Regions from separate parts of the Homo sapiens genome. Here region 1 is linked to region 2. The links come from fine-mapping of genetic effects on gene expression. Tissue or cell type: whole blood. Region 2 holds a variant in brackets; the other region holds the start of a gene. All regions are shown on one strand. Distances are between the middles of the regions.

Evidence for each region. PIP is the estimated chance that this variant, and not a neighbour inherited with it, causes the effect.
Region 1: TTN starts here. The variant in region 2 is fine-mapped to the expression of TTN in whole blood (TOPMed, PIP above 0.99). The same link has a PIP of 0.9 or more in blood mononuclear cells.

The regions. Positions count from the first base shown.
Region 1 is chr2:178,803,233-178,810,792 of GRCh38, reverse strand. TTN (titin) reads left to right here and starts at 3,370. Exons shown (of 363, transcript NM_001267550.2): 1 at 3,370-3,581; 2 at 6,138-6,241. The coding sequence starts at 6,151.
Region 2 is chr2:179,048,678-179,056,237 of GRCh38, reverse strand. It overlaps CCDC141 (coiled-coil domain containing 141), which reads left to right and starts at 6,101. Exons shown (of 24, transcript NM_173648.4): 1 at 6,101-6,398. The coding sequence starts at 6,297. RefSeq lists enhancers at 6,025-6,104, 6,115-6,364, 6,555-6,604. The variant T/C (reference allele first, on the strand shown) is at 3,374.

The sequences.
Region 1 (7,560 bases), 250 kb after region 2:
ATTCGTACACTTGTAAATAGTTGTGGAAACCTAATTTGATCTTGCTTCTAAAGAAATTATAACTGGATGTAGAAAAAAATGGGACAATAAGTCTTTTAAATTGTAAGCAACAATTTCTTGCCTCCCACATTCCCAGTGTAGCTTTTTCCGCCTCTATAACTCAAAGAACACGACTGTCTTCCATTAGAATAAATTGTTTTTGTCAGCACGCTTTTCCCTGTGCACTTCTTGAATTTGCTTTTCTATTTCCTTGTTTAAAAATAGCTCCATGATGAGCCTATATTTCAGCTTTGATATATTTTATGAGTGGAAAGGAAATTACAGATATTATATCACTTAATATTACTGTGTTAACAAAAATGTAAACTCTTAGAGGGCAGGTATTTTTGTGTGTTGTGTGCATTGCTATGATCTCTGTGCCTAAACTGTGTTTAATACAATAAAAGAACACACAAAAAAATTTAATCAGTCATAAGATACATTAGTTTTACTCTCTTCTAGTATCCTTGCATTGGCCTTCAAAACTGTACCCATTTCTCGAATAACTCCCAGTAAGTCCTTCCTTTGTAAATGGTCCTATATAAGGTAAACAAAGTCTGACTATGTAGTTGGAGTTACTGCCTGAGTTTTACATATATCCTAGACTTGGTCTCAGTCACAGATTAATGAGCATTCACTAAGAGTTGATGTAGACCATGATCTCTAAGAGCACAATAATTCTAACTGTCTTTTCTTGGTCAGCTCTGCCTAGCCATCACTAGCACAATGCCCAGCACAAAGTCACCACTCAGTAGATATTTGTCAAATCAATAAATAATGACAGAATCCAAAATCGTAATAATTTATCCCAGTGCTCAGCACTGACTATATGTTTAATAAATATTTATTGAATTTCATTGAATATTGTGCTTAAAGAGAGAATCATGCCATGCATTCCAAATTAAGTAGGCATTACATTTGAATTATCAGCTGTTTGGGATTATCTGTGTGGCTCCTCCCCACTGTTAGGGTGGTAAATTGAGATCTTACTCCATCAGCAAACTCCCCAAATCTGCCTAGTATTTGGTTTCCACAAGACTAGTTTACTAATTCTAACGATGGCATATTTAATTTTAAAACTAATGCATACCATGATATCATATACTGTCCATTACTATTCCAATAATAAGAACTCTTTTTCAGAGCAGCATATTAGTTATTTACTAACTGGTCCCTTCTTTCCTTTTCTTTCTTCTTTTTTCTTTTGTTCATTCATTTTTTTCTTTTCTTAATTCTGAATGTCACATAAACATATAAAGGCCTAAAGGCAAGGATCTTGACAATATTGCAAGGTGTATTAGGGTTCTCTAGAGGGACAGAACTAATATGTATATAGGGAAGAATATATACATACATATATATATTTATATAAAGGGAAGTTTGTTAAGTATTAATTCACACAATCACAAGGTCCCACAATATGCTGTCTGCAAGCTGAGGAGCAAGGAGAGACAGTCCAAGCCCCAAAACTGAAGAACTTGGAGTCCGATGTTCGAGGGCAGGAAGCATCCAGCTCGGGAGAAAGATGTAGGCTGGCAGGCAGGGTCTAGAAAAGTCTAAGAACAGTGACTAGACAATCAGCTTAAGAGGACAGACACTTGACTTTATGTTTATAACATATGGTCCATCTTCTTGGCTCTTGAGTTACCTGAATTGCATCATGTCAAGATGACGCAGGCTTCCAGATTATAGTCACTTCTTCCCTCTAGTTCCCGTAAGAATTAAAATGATTTGACTTTAGTTCCAACAAACATAACGTAACATTAATGTGCTTCACATTAGGTCAAATGAGTCTAAAAATACACACACGCACACTACATACCCACACACAAATATGCACAAACGTATCTTAAATAGATAGCCAATTGGTGAACACTCCAAAACAGAAAGATCATACATTTCTAGTGTTTCTTTGCCTTATGACTGGCAGATTCTTTGTAACACAAATCTCTCAGTGGGAATAATTTTCAAAGTATATAATATGAAACCAGTTGTTTCTGAATAAAGCAATCAAATAGAATTATAGCAGATGCCATCTATGGGGGTGGAAATGGTGCCACCAATACAGATACCACCACTTAAGTAAAGGAGAAAAATGTTTAAATAAGTACATGGCGTCATCTTGTTAACATAACTATACTACATTAGTTGTCAGTAAATTTAAACTGTTAAACATTAACATATTAATCACTATATAAATAAATACAAGATATGAAATACTCAAGAAATTGAAAAGTTTAATGCATGGCCAAATTCTTCCATAACAGGGAATATTTTTATTACAGACATAAAGAAATTTAACTTAAATTAAAAATTTTAGTCTCTTTTATTGATAAAAGTCTCTTTCCATTATCAACAAGACAATTTTCCTCCCTCTAAGTAGAGTTTCACAAATCTCTCAGCTGAGTCATTATAAAGATCTTTTGGTGTGCTCTTTTTTATTTGAAATATCTCTTGCTTGAAATTAAATTCAGTCCTAAAATAGCAACTATATCACCTCCTATCCACTTCCCATTAGTAACAGCAAACTCCAGAGATTAGCAGAACAGCATTCATGTGTCTGGAAAAGGAACCTTATGGATGATTTAAGCATAAGACCTGGCTACTTACTAAGGAGCAGTACACACATATTTGTAAATATTAATGCCAGACAAAAATGAAATCTGACAAAGGTGAAATCATTGTACTGTACAGACTAACCTAAGCAGAGTTCCAATTTTGCCTTTCAACATTATATCTTGCAGGGTTGTATAAGCAATAAGCTCATTAACATCAGTGTAACTGTCCCCGAAATACAAGTGGATTCTGGAGAATGTAGGTAGTACAAATGAGCTCTCTTCAACGTTAAGGTTTATAGCAACTGATTCTTCAGAGAACATGAAGCCTTATGCTTGAGATAAATTTCCTCATCTGCTGTCATGATTGACAGGTCCATTTGGTTTGTTTTATGGGGGAAGGGAACAGGACTGGGGCCTGACTCAGGGCACAGTCCTCAGGTTTGGGGCTCTTTTGTATGACTGCCCACAAGTGCTATCTACTGTCACACCTCTTTAAACCTGCATTTTCGGATTTTAACATCAGCAACCAATGCTCTTCTCTGAGCCTCAACACAGTTATTCTTTAAATACAGTTCTATTTCCTTGGTGAAGTCTCCTTTGAGGTACTAAATTTAGCACTGTCAATCAGAAGAACAGGTGGTATGTGACACTACCAAATAGGTCCTCTCCCATCATGCTTTCCTAAGACAGCCAATCACCCAGGGCCCTGCCTAAGGATGTGGGGCTGTCAGCAGATCTGGTGAATATAAGGGCAGGCCAGACCCTGGCTCTTGAGCAGTCGTGCATTCCCAGCCTCGCCTCGGGTGTAGGGATTGCATAGAAAAGCAAAACTACACAGTCTTGACTGTGTAGTTTTGTTTTTAGGATTAGAGGCTCACCGATTCATGTCGGAGATGGTCAGAAAAACCAACTCTCCATAGGACGTCGTTTCAGAAGCAACCTTGGGCTTAGTCCCACCCTTTTTAGGCACTCTTGAGAAATCAGGTGAGCAGCAACTTTTCTTATTTTAATAGTAGAGTCACTTTCTTATTGATCTCTGGCTCTGGATTATTTGTGTGTGCTAAATGCCTATGTACAAGTGTTTGTATGACTATTTCTTGCCAGTGCTGACCCATTATTTAAATCTGCTTGTTAAATTCTATTTTAAAATGTCTGAACATTTTTCCTTAAAAAGTTGAAAGCTTTATTATATCAGCTAAATGATTCCATGATTCAAATTGTTTAAGTTCACTTAATATTCTAAAAGTTGAGGTCTGAAATGTTGAGAGAAATGTTTACTTCTTTTCTAGACTCTCTTTGCCTGTTGAGAATGTTCAAGGTTATATTACTCAATGATAAAGTTAAGCACACCAAGAATAGCTCTGATAAAATGCATGTGGTATCAGCTACACCCTGATGACTTTTTAAGGGAATCAACTGCTGAGGTATCAGTTGCAGGACAGTGACAGAACACTTGCCTGCTGTCAGTCAACCTTGGAGAGTTTAGGAGAGTTTATTTTAAGAGCATGACATTTTAGACGCATACCTTCAGCCCCAGTTAGACAAAGGCCTGTGAAGAGCAAGTGCTAAGGCAATAAAATTTACCTAGACAATAGGAATGTAAGATCAATTTAAGCTGGTTAATTGCAACATAGTTGGAGATTTGGAATAAAATGATATAATTGTTTTCTAAAATATTCAGAATCTCTTCATGCATTTTAACTCAGCACACAGTCCAATTATATATTTTGAGATAAATGTTGACACTAAGAAGGGTAAGAAATAATGTTTAAAGGAAAGGTTTCTTACTTCTAAATACACTTTGATTTCTCATCTTCCTAGAATTTGATTACTAATTGTCAATGCCTGTAAATACATAGATATATAATTAGGTATTCTATGTCTAAGAGGACAGCTATTTTTAGATATACTAACTTATAAACAGACAAAGTTAGACACAGAAAGTTGTTCATCCCAAAGATAATATGCTACAAAAAGGAGTTTCTGACAAAAAAAATTTATGAAAGCTTTTGGATATTATCTGATTTTTCCAAATATAAATTTTATTGTCTCAGAGAATGCTGGTTTCATTTTTTTAACTAAGTAGAAGGTTACAGTAAGGAACAGAATTATCACTAAGAAGATTATTGCTCCATGAAGTTTTAGTAAACAAAGAATTTAATGAAAAATAGTAATGAAGTGATTGACAATTCAGAAATGTTCTATTTCAGAACAGAATAGTCATGTTGAATAATTAGGTATTTATGCATCAGAAAATTCTTCACATAATGTCTCTGAAACTGATAGGCAAAGTACTTTCTTGCACTTAACAAAATGACTTAACTGCAAATTTTATATTCGTTTCTTTGATGTTGAATATTTTACTTTATGAAAGCATAGGCCTTTTCACTTCATCTACATTTTACACCAGCCTTCCATTATTCAAAGTTTGCAAATTGTTCCATATTAAGAACTCAAGCCAGCATTTTTCTTTCAGAACTATAATAAACTTTGGCCTGTTCACTAAAATTTAAATTTTTCTGAATATTTACTTCAGCAGTAACAACATTTACTGCACAGTTACAGTATGAAGAAATGTTAAGAAATAGAAAGCACCGTATGCCGTCTACAAAAAGCTTGCATATTTGATAAGGCTTGCCAAAGCTTCTCCAGTCAGGAAAGAGATTACAAAGTTCAGATTTTTACTTCTGGCAACTATTTTAAGTAATCAGATAATGTCTGAATCAATGTCAACTTTATAAATATAGAGTGAACGAAAAATATTGGGGAGAAGGAAAATTTTTAAAATAATTTTCACTTACTAAGCTGATGCAGAGGTTTATTTATTTTAATTTTTTTTTTTTTTTTTTTTTGAGACAGAGTCTCATTCTGTCACCCAGGCTGGAGTGTGGTGGCACCATCTTTGCTCACTGCAACCTCCACCTCCTGGGTTTAAGCAATTCTCATGCCTCAGCCTCCCAAGTAGCTGGGACTACAGACATGGGCCACCACGCCTGGCTAATTTTTGTATTTGTAGTAGAGACAGGGGTTTCACCATGTTAGCCAAACTGGTCTCAAACTCCTGACCTCAAGTAATCCTCCCGCCTCGGCCTCCTAAAGTGCTGGGATTACCAGCATGAGCCACCACGCCAGGCCCAGAGGTTTATTTTACATTTATCACATGTCTTGTCTCTCTAATTACACTTCACTAACCCTGCATTGCTGTGGTTTTCTTCTTCAACTCTGAACCTGGTTTTCCACCATTGGTAAGACTGTATATTCCCTCTTTGACCACTAGGGTTCATTCCTTGTTCTGTTTGGCTAATACTTTTTTCCATTTCCCCTTACACTTGCTACTTTGGGTTAGGCTTTAAGTCAACTCAATGATGAACTATGCAAAACTGTTCAAGCCACAAAAGAGAAGACCTGCCCATCACTCTAGGCCCACAGATGACCTATGGAGCAATCCATTTGGAGAAACGTGTGTCTCTGCTATCTGCAAAGCAGCTCCAGAGTGACCCTTAGCTGGGACACCCTAATTTATTTTCTCTTCTTTTTCAGAGTGCCTAGAAAGATGACAACTCAAGCACCGACGTTTACGCAGCCGTTACAAAGCGTTGTGGTACTGGAGGGTAGTACCGCAACCTTTGAGGCTCACATTAGTGGTAAGCTCACACATTCACACTTTTGTTTTTTTTTCCTTTGCCTCCTCTCCAGTAAGTTAACGTTGCTGCAGGACTTGACGCCAAGTTTAAGCCCTGCTTTCACTTCGGAAAATTAGTCCAACACTATGGAAAGGTCATTTTAAGGGTATACCATTCACAGAGTACTGACAAAATCTGACAATATAATGGCTTGAAATGTTTTATTCATATTTATTATTCCACAAAGCAAAAATAATTAGTGTTGGATTAAAATTGCCGTTAGAATCCAGCAACTAAATAGGACCAAATTTAGTCATTCTATATTTGGGCTCAGCTGCAGAGCCAGACTGGAAGCCAAGAACTCAAGCCCAATAGAAGCCAGCCACAGAGCCATGGGGTAGGCAGTCTGGGCTGCCTGCTCTGGACACCTGAACTTCAGTTGGTTCACACGCAAAATAACAGTGCATCTAATTTTCCTCAGAGGCAGAGCTGTTCAGTAATTAACCAACTCCTCATTATTTTATTATTTTATTTTCAATCTTTATTGAGTGATTCTAATGAATTAAAAGACTTTCCAATCGTTTTGAAATGACAGAAAATAATATGCTTCTCGGGTGTCTCTATTTAAAAGGAAGCAAACACTAACCCTAGAATTTTATCTGAAAGGAAGTTCATCTCTTTTTTGCCTTCTTTTTCTTCCTCATAACTCAGTTTATGGATGGTTCAAAAAAATGCATGGTATCATCTTATGAAAAAATGGAGAGTAGTGTATGAACTATATTGTAAATAATTTTAAAATTAATCAATATTTTCTCTTTCTGTAGTATTGTAACGAGCCATGTAAGATGGATACGGATTAAAAAAAATCATGCTTAATTCTTAATTTAGTGCACTTCCATGGTTCATTGCCCACTTCTTTTTTAAAATTTTATGGCTTATAATAAAGATATAAAATAAAATTTCTTTTTTTCTCTTTTTTTCTATTATATGCACCAATCTTATTCATAACTGGATAATACTTTCTTTTACATTGTACAAATATCATATAATCATTGCTTATTTTCTATTGTACATATATAGACCAATGAAATTCCCTTTTCATTGGTCTATATATGTACAATAGAAAATAAGTCTTACCGACTTCCAAATAATTTACCTATTTATCTGGTAACACTCAGTAACTTCTGAACTGAGCAGAACACATATGACTTCAGTGGGAATTTGCCTCCTTGAGAAGTAGTGGAATCTGGCTACTTCATATCTTCTTGTTCCTTCAAACTATATGCAAATAAATTATTACAAAGACACTACTGAAAATATCCAATACCCATAAATCAGTC
Region 2 (7,560 bases):
GGCAAGCTTCCACCTTCCATTCCTCCTTCTTCTCCCTTAGCCTGTGTTTTTAAGAACTTAAAACCTCTTCAACTCTCACCTGACCTAAAATCTAAGTGTCTTATTTTCTTCTGCAATGCCGCTTGACCCCAATACAAACTCGACAGTAGTTCCAAATAGCCAGAAAACAGCACTTTCAATTTTTCCATCCTACAAGATCTAAATAATTCTTGTCGTAAAATAGGCAAATGGTCTGAGGTGCCTAACGCCCAGGCATTCTTTTACACATCGGTCCCTCCCCCTAGTCTCTGTTCCCAATGCAACTCACCCCAAATCTTCCTTCTTTCCCTCCCACCAGTCTCCTCAGTCCCAACCCCAAGCGTCGCTGAGTCTTTCTAATCTTCCTTTTCTACAGACCCATCTGACCTCTCCCCTCCTCGCCAGGCCGAGCTAGGTCCTAATTCTTCCTCAGCCTCCGCTCCTCCACCCTATAAATCTTTTATCATCTCCCCTCCTCACACCTGGTCCGGCTTACAGTTTCATTCCGTGACTAGCCCTCCCCCACCTGCCCAGCAATTTACTCTTAAAAAGGTGGCTGGAGCTAAAGGCATAGTCAAGGTTAATGCTCCTTTCTCTTTATCTCAAATCAGATAGCGTTTAGGCTCTTTTTCATCAAATATAAAAATCCAGCCCAGTTCATGGCTCGTTTGGCAGCAACCCTGAGACGCTTTACAGCCCTAGACCCTAAAAGGTCAAAAGGCCGTCTTATTCTCAATATACATTTTATTACCCAATCTGCTCCCGACATTAAATAAAACTCCAAAAACTAAATTCCAGCCCTCAAACCCCACAACAGGACTTAATTAACCTCGCCTTCAAGGTGTACAATAATAGAGGCAGCCAAGTAGCAACATTTCTGAATTGCAATTCCTTGTCTCCACTGCGAGACAAACCCCAGCCACATCTCCAGCACACAAGAACTTCCAAACATCAAAACCACAGTGGCCAGGGGTTCCTCCAGAACCGCCTCCCCCAGGAGCTTGCTACAAGTGCCAGAAATCTGGCCACCAGGCCAAGGAATGCCCGCAGCCCAGGATTCCTCCTAAGCCGTGTCCCATCTGTGAAGGACCCCACTGGAAATCGGACTGTTCAACTCACCTGGCAGTCACTCCCAGAGCCCCTGGAACTCTGGCCCAAGGCTCTCTGACTGACTCCTTCCCAGATCTTCTCAGCTTAGCGGCTGAAGACTGATGCTGTCCGATCTCCTCGGAAGCCCCGTAGAACATCACGGACGCCAGGCTTTATGTAACTCTCACAGTGGAGGGTAAGTCCATCCCCTTCTTAATACGGAGGCTACCCACTCCACATTACCTTCTTTTCAAGGGCCTGTTTCCCTTGCCTCCATAACTGGTAGGTATTGACAGCCAGGCTTCCTAAACCTCTTGAAACTCCCCAACTCTGGTGCCAACTTAGACAATACTCTTTTAAGCACTCCTTTTTAGTTATCCCCACCAGCCCAGTTCCCTTATTAGGCCGAGACACTTTAACTAAATTATCTGCTTCCCTGACTATTCCTGGACTACAGCTACATCTCATTGCCACCCTTCTTCCCAATCCAAAGCCTCCTTTGGGTCCTCTTCTTGTATCCCCCCACCTTAACCCACAAGTATAAGATACCTTTACTCCCTCCTTGGTGACCGATCATGCACCACTTACCATCTCATTAAAACCTAATCACCCTTACCCGCTCAATGCCAATATCCCATCCCACACCATGCTTTGAAAGGATTAAAGCCTGTTATCACTCGCCTGCTACAGCATGGCCTTTTAAAACCTATAAACTCTCCTTACAATTCCATTTTACCTGTCCTAAAACCAGATGATCCTTACAAGTTAGTTCGGGATCTATGCCTTATCAACCAAATTGTTTTGCCTATCCACCCCACGGTGCCAAACCCATATACTCTCCTATCCTCAATAGCTCCCTCCACAATCCATTATTCTGTTCTGGATCTCAAACATGCTTTCTTTACTCTTCCTTTGCACCCTTCATCCCAGCCTCTCTTTGCTTTCACCTGGACTGACCCTGACACCCATCAAGCTCAGCAAATTACCTGGGCTGTACTGCCGCAAAGCTGCACAGACAGATCCCATTACTTCAGTCAAGCCCAAATTTCTTCCTCATCTGTTACCTATCTCAGCATAATTCTCATAAAAACACATGTGCTCTCCCTGCTGGTAGTGTCCGGCTAATCTCCCAAACCCCAATCCCTTCTACAAAACAACTCCTTTCCTTCCTAGGCATAGTTGGATACTTTCACCTTTGGATACCTGGTTTTGCCATCCTAACAAAACCGTTATATAAACTCACAAAAGGAAACCTAGCTGACCCCATAGATCCTAAATCCTTTCTCCACTCCTCTTTCCATTCCTTGAAGACAGCTTTAGAGACTGCCCCCACCCTAGCTCTTGCTGACTCATCCCAACCCTTTTCATTACACACAGCAGAAGTGCAGGGCTGTGCAGTTGGAATTCTTACACAAGGACTGGGATCGCATCCTGTAGGCTTTTTGTCCAAACAACTTGACCTTACTGTTTTAGGATGGCCATCATGTCTCCGTGCAGCAGCTGCTGCCACCCTAATACTTTTAGAGGTCCTTATAATCACAAACTATTCTCAACTCACTCTCTACAGCTCTCATAATTTCCAAAATCTATTTTCTTCCTCACACCTGATGCATATACTTTCTGCTCCCCGGCTCCTTCAGTTGTACTCACTCTTTGTTGAGTCTCCCACAATTACCATTGTTCATGGCCCGGACTTCAATCCAGCCTCCCACATTATTCCTGATACCACACCTGACCTTCATGACTGAATCTCTCTGATCCACCTGATGTTCACCCCATTTCCCCTCATTTCCTTCTTCCCTGTTTCTCACCCTGATCGCACTTGGTTTATTGATGGCAGTTCCACCAGGCCTAATCACCACACACCAGCAAAGGCAGGCTATCCTATATTACAAGCCACTAGTCCGCCTCTTAGAACCTCTCATTTCCTTTCCATCGTGGAAATCTATCCTCAAGGAAATAACATCTCAGTGTTCCATCTGCTATTCTACTACTTCTCGGATTATTCAGGCCCCTTCCCTTCCCTAAACATCAAGCTCAGAGATTTGCCCCCACCCAGGACTAGCAAATTAGCTTTACTTAACATGCCCCAAGTCAGGAAACTAAAATACCTCTTGGTCTATGTAGACACTTTCACTTGATAGGAAGATACCTTTCCCACAGGGTCTAAGAAGGCCACCACGGTCATTTCTTCCCTTCTGTCAGACACAATTACTCGGTTTGGCCTTCCCACCTCTACGCAGTCCGATAGTAGACTGGCCTTTAT[T/C]AGTCAAATCAGCCAAGCAGTTTTTCAGGCTCTTGGTATTCAGTGAAACTTTTATATCCCTTACAGTCCTCAGTCTTCAGGAAAAGTAGAACGGACTAATGGTCTTTTAAAAACACACTTCACTAAGCTCAGCCACCAACTTAAAAAGGACTGGACAATACTTTTACCTCTTTCTTTTCTCAGAATTCAGGCCTGTCCTCGGAATGCTACAAGGTACAGCCCATTTGAGCTCCTGTGTGGACGCTCCTTTTTATTTAGCCCCAGTCTCATTCCAGACACCAGACCAACTTAGATTTTGCCCCCAAAATCTTGTCATCCCTACTATCTTCTGTCTAGTCATACTCCTATTCACCATTCTCAACTACTTATACATGCTCTGCTCTTGTTTACACTGCTGGTTTACATTGTTTCTCCAAGCCATCACAGCTGATATCTCCTGGTGCTATCCCCAAACTGCCACTCTTAACTCTTGAAGTAAATAAATAATCTTTGCCGGCAGGACTATGCTGAATCTCCTTAGGCACTCTCTAATCAGATGTCCTAGGTCCTCCCAATTCTTAGACCTTTAATACCTGTTTTTCTCCCTCTCTTATTCCATTTAGTTTCTCAATTCATATAAAACTGTATCCAGGCCATCACCAATAATTCTAAATGACAAATGTTTCTTCTAACAGTCCCATAATGTCACCCCTTACCACAAAGTCTTCCTTCAGCTTAATCCCTCCCACTCTAAGTTCTCATGACGCCCCTAATCCCGCTCGAAGCAGCCCTGAGAAACATCCCCCATCATCTCTCCATACCATCCCCCAAAATTTTCACCGTCCCAACACTTTACCACTATTTCGTTTTATTTTTCTTATTAATATAAGAAAGGAATGTCAGGCCTCTGAGCCCAAGCTAAGCCATCATATCCCCTGTGACCTGTGTACACATCCAGATGGCCAGTTCCTGCCTTAACTGATGACATTCCACCACAAAAGAAATGAAAATAGCCTGTTCCTGCCTTAACTGATGGCATTATCTTGTGAAATTCCTTCTCCTGGCTCATCCTGGCTCAAAAGCTCCCCTACTGAGCACCTTGTGACCCCCCCACTCCTGCCTGCCAGAGAACAACCCCCCTTTTTCCTTTACTTACCCAAATCCCATAAAACGGCCCCACCCCTATCTCCTTTCGCTGACTCTCTTCTCAGACTCAGCCCACCTGCACCCAGGTGAAATAAACAGCTTTATTGCTCACACAAAGCCTGTTTGGTGGTCTCTTCACACAGATGCAAGTGAAAGAAGGAGCCTGCCTGCAACCTTCCAGGTCAGTTACCTCTTTGCAAGCTCTCCAGCCCTGCCATAAAATGAAACCATTTGCAATAGTTGCTACATCATAGCTTGCTCGGCATCTGCTTTCCTGAGCTCGCTCCAATTGTTCCCTTCATGGGGTCAGGTGAAGTTCGTGTTGCATAGGGACTAGGATCTAGGTATGGTTTCCATCTCACTGGGGCAGCAGGCAGATGCTGAGCGCAGAGGACATGGGTGGTGGCTACACAGCTGCAGAGCAGCCATGACATGCTCTTGGAAACAAAAATAATTGAACACTGAAGTATGTGTAAAAGTACTTTTCCCCTTTGAATCAAGAATATGATCATGAACCTTAGCAAAACAAAGCAATGGAGCTGACTCAGTCTTCTAAACATTGGCCCTGAACCTGAACCTACTATTAAATTGGGCTAAAAGGTTTACAGAGCAAGTGGATTCATTAAAACTGTTTTTTGCTATATTCTCTGTTGTGGCTTTGTCCCAGAGATTTCCAATGCTTCCAGCAGCTTTGGAGTTAGTAACTCTGATATGTTTGCATCTGACTTCTGACCTAAACTTTAGTGTTATTTTCAGCTGTTCTTTGACAGGGAATCCAACAGCTGCTGTTTAATACCACAGACAACTTGTGACACAGGCTGAGTTTCTAGCAATAGGATTAATCTACCAATGTGGGGCACTGATTTGAAGCTGGCTATAATTTTCCTGAACAGGAGGTGGGGGTAGGGAATAAAAAGCCTGAAGCACAGTACTTTCCTTTTTGTTTTTGTTTTTAATTGCAGCAAAATATATGTCTTAATAACTTTTAACCACACAGAAAACATTTTCTTGCTGCAATTAAAAGGTAACAGCAAAGTATTTTGCTTTCTCATGGTATTAATAACTGAACTTGAAAACCTTGTCCAATGGAGCAGAATAGTCACAAAGAAAATCTGAAATGATAGGCACCTATTTATAAATGCTGGTTGAAATATTTTTTAAAAATTCCTAAGAAATCTGAGGCTCTGAGAAAATGTGGCTATTCCATCTAAACTTCATTTAGCAAAGAACAGTAAGTTTTAGAAAAGCAGATTAATCTAAAAATGTGTTTTAAGCAATTTGTGACTTAACCCCAAGACAAATACCAAAACTTTTTTAAAGTACACTTTGGTAGTTCTCTTTGCATCAGAGAGATTTCAAAAATCTTGAAAAGATTGATAACCAGGTCAAAGACTTACTTGTTTCAAAGTCCATGGTTACAATGGCATAGTTTCGGTGGCAAAACTAATTTGGGTTGTCAGGATGTAATTTTTTTTTCCATTTGTTATCAAACATCAGCTGATAAGGAAAGAGCTTGAAGCTGTCCTCCACATTTAAGATAACAGCAAAAATAACAGGCACTTAGTGTCACCATACTAGGGGCGTGGCAATTCTCTCTCGTTCGCTCCTTTCTCTCTCACGATAAACTCAATGGGGTTGTCTATTTTTAACCTCCTGTTCTTTCCTTTTGGCAGAGTAATCAGTGTGAGCTGAGCTCTTTCCCTGAATGAATCCAAGTAACCCTGGCCTTCTGAAATGACCAGCAGACACACAACTGTCCAGAGGCTGCCCAAAGTATAAACTCTGGTTCTAAAGTACCATGTCCAGCCAAGGAAGTCCTAGTGTTGCGCTTTCTACGACGACAGTCAGTTCAGTTGCTGTGCAGGCTGGGGACTCCAAAATCGTTATAGCTGTCATAAAGGTAAGCTAACAACTTCCTTTTTTCTGTGCGGCTGTGGGCTTCTAGCTGTGTGTTGAAAACCCTAAAGAACATTCCATGCAATCGGCAGGACACAGCATAGAGAAGACAACGCAGCAAGCACTCTTACTGCTTTCTAAAATGGGCTACTAAGAGAAACCTCTACAAGTTTCAGCAGTTACCAGAGATTCTCTTTCCTTTCAGTCAGCCAGAAAGCATCTATAGCAGCTTGATTTAAAAAAAAAAAAAAAAAGAAAAGAAAGAAAAATAAAGAAAAGAAAACCTCTAGCATATACTGTCAATTTGGTCTTTAAAAGCAAGGCATTGGTAACTGGAAGTTCATGATTGCCTGACTAAAGAGTCCAATGGACCTGTGGAATGCTTGTGATTTTTGAGAGTGGATGTGATGGAGGTGGGAGGAGGCAGGTCCCGACAGACAGGGGGAGGGCACTGCTTTAAGCACGATGGAACTCAGAAAACACCAAGTAAAGGGCTCCGACATGTGCCCTTTGCCACACTGGTTTTGACATGGTAAAGAAACTACTAAATCCTTGTCCAGTAACGAAGACCATGCAAGGAAAGGTACAAAAGCTTTGTGTCAAATTTGCTCTTAACAGCAGGAAGTAGAAGCCACTTAGGGTTTACAATTACTGCATGTTTTATGACAACCCATTTGCCCATTTGCAAAGATGACCACACATCTTTAGGCTGAAGAAGAACTCCATGATTTTATTCTCCATGGAAATGCCCTGTAAAAAAAAGCTTTCAAGCACTAGGCTTGGGCTTTAGATGATATTCCACCTAAATAATTCAGTGTTTAATGAAGGGAAAGCTGGCAAACAAGCTGATGGTCACAAACCAGTTACTTTCAGGTCCCCACCAGGTTTAATTGAATGACTTTTCTGGCCTTTTGTTAGAGCATGGACAGCAAGCCATGTTTACTTTAACTTAATTGCTGTGAATTTTATGGTAATGTGAAAATTCATACCAGGAAAAGAGCACTTGATACTGAGCAAAACAGTTCACTATAGAAGGACAGAATGGAAAGTATTCCTGCCGAGGTGGATTTTCTGGTGTTGTGAGACTTCTCTCCCACAGGAACCAGGCCTCTGCTGACTTCCTCACCCTCCCATCTTTTCAGAGTCCCAGAGAGGAGATGAAAAGA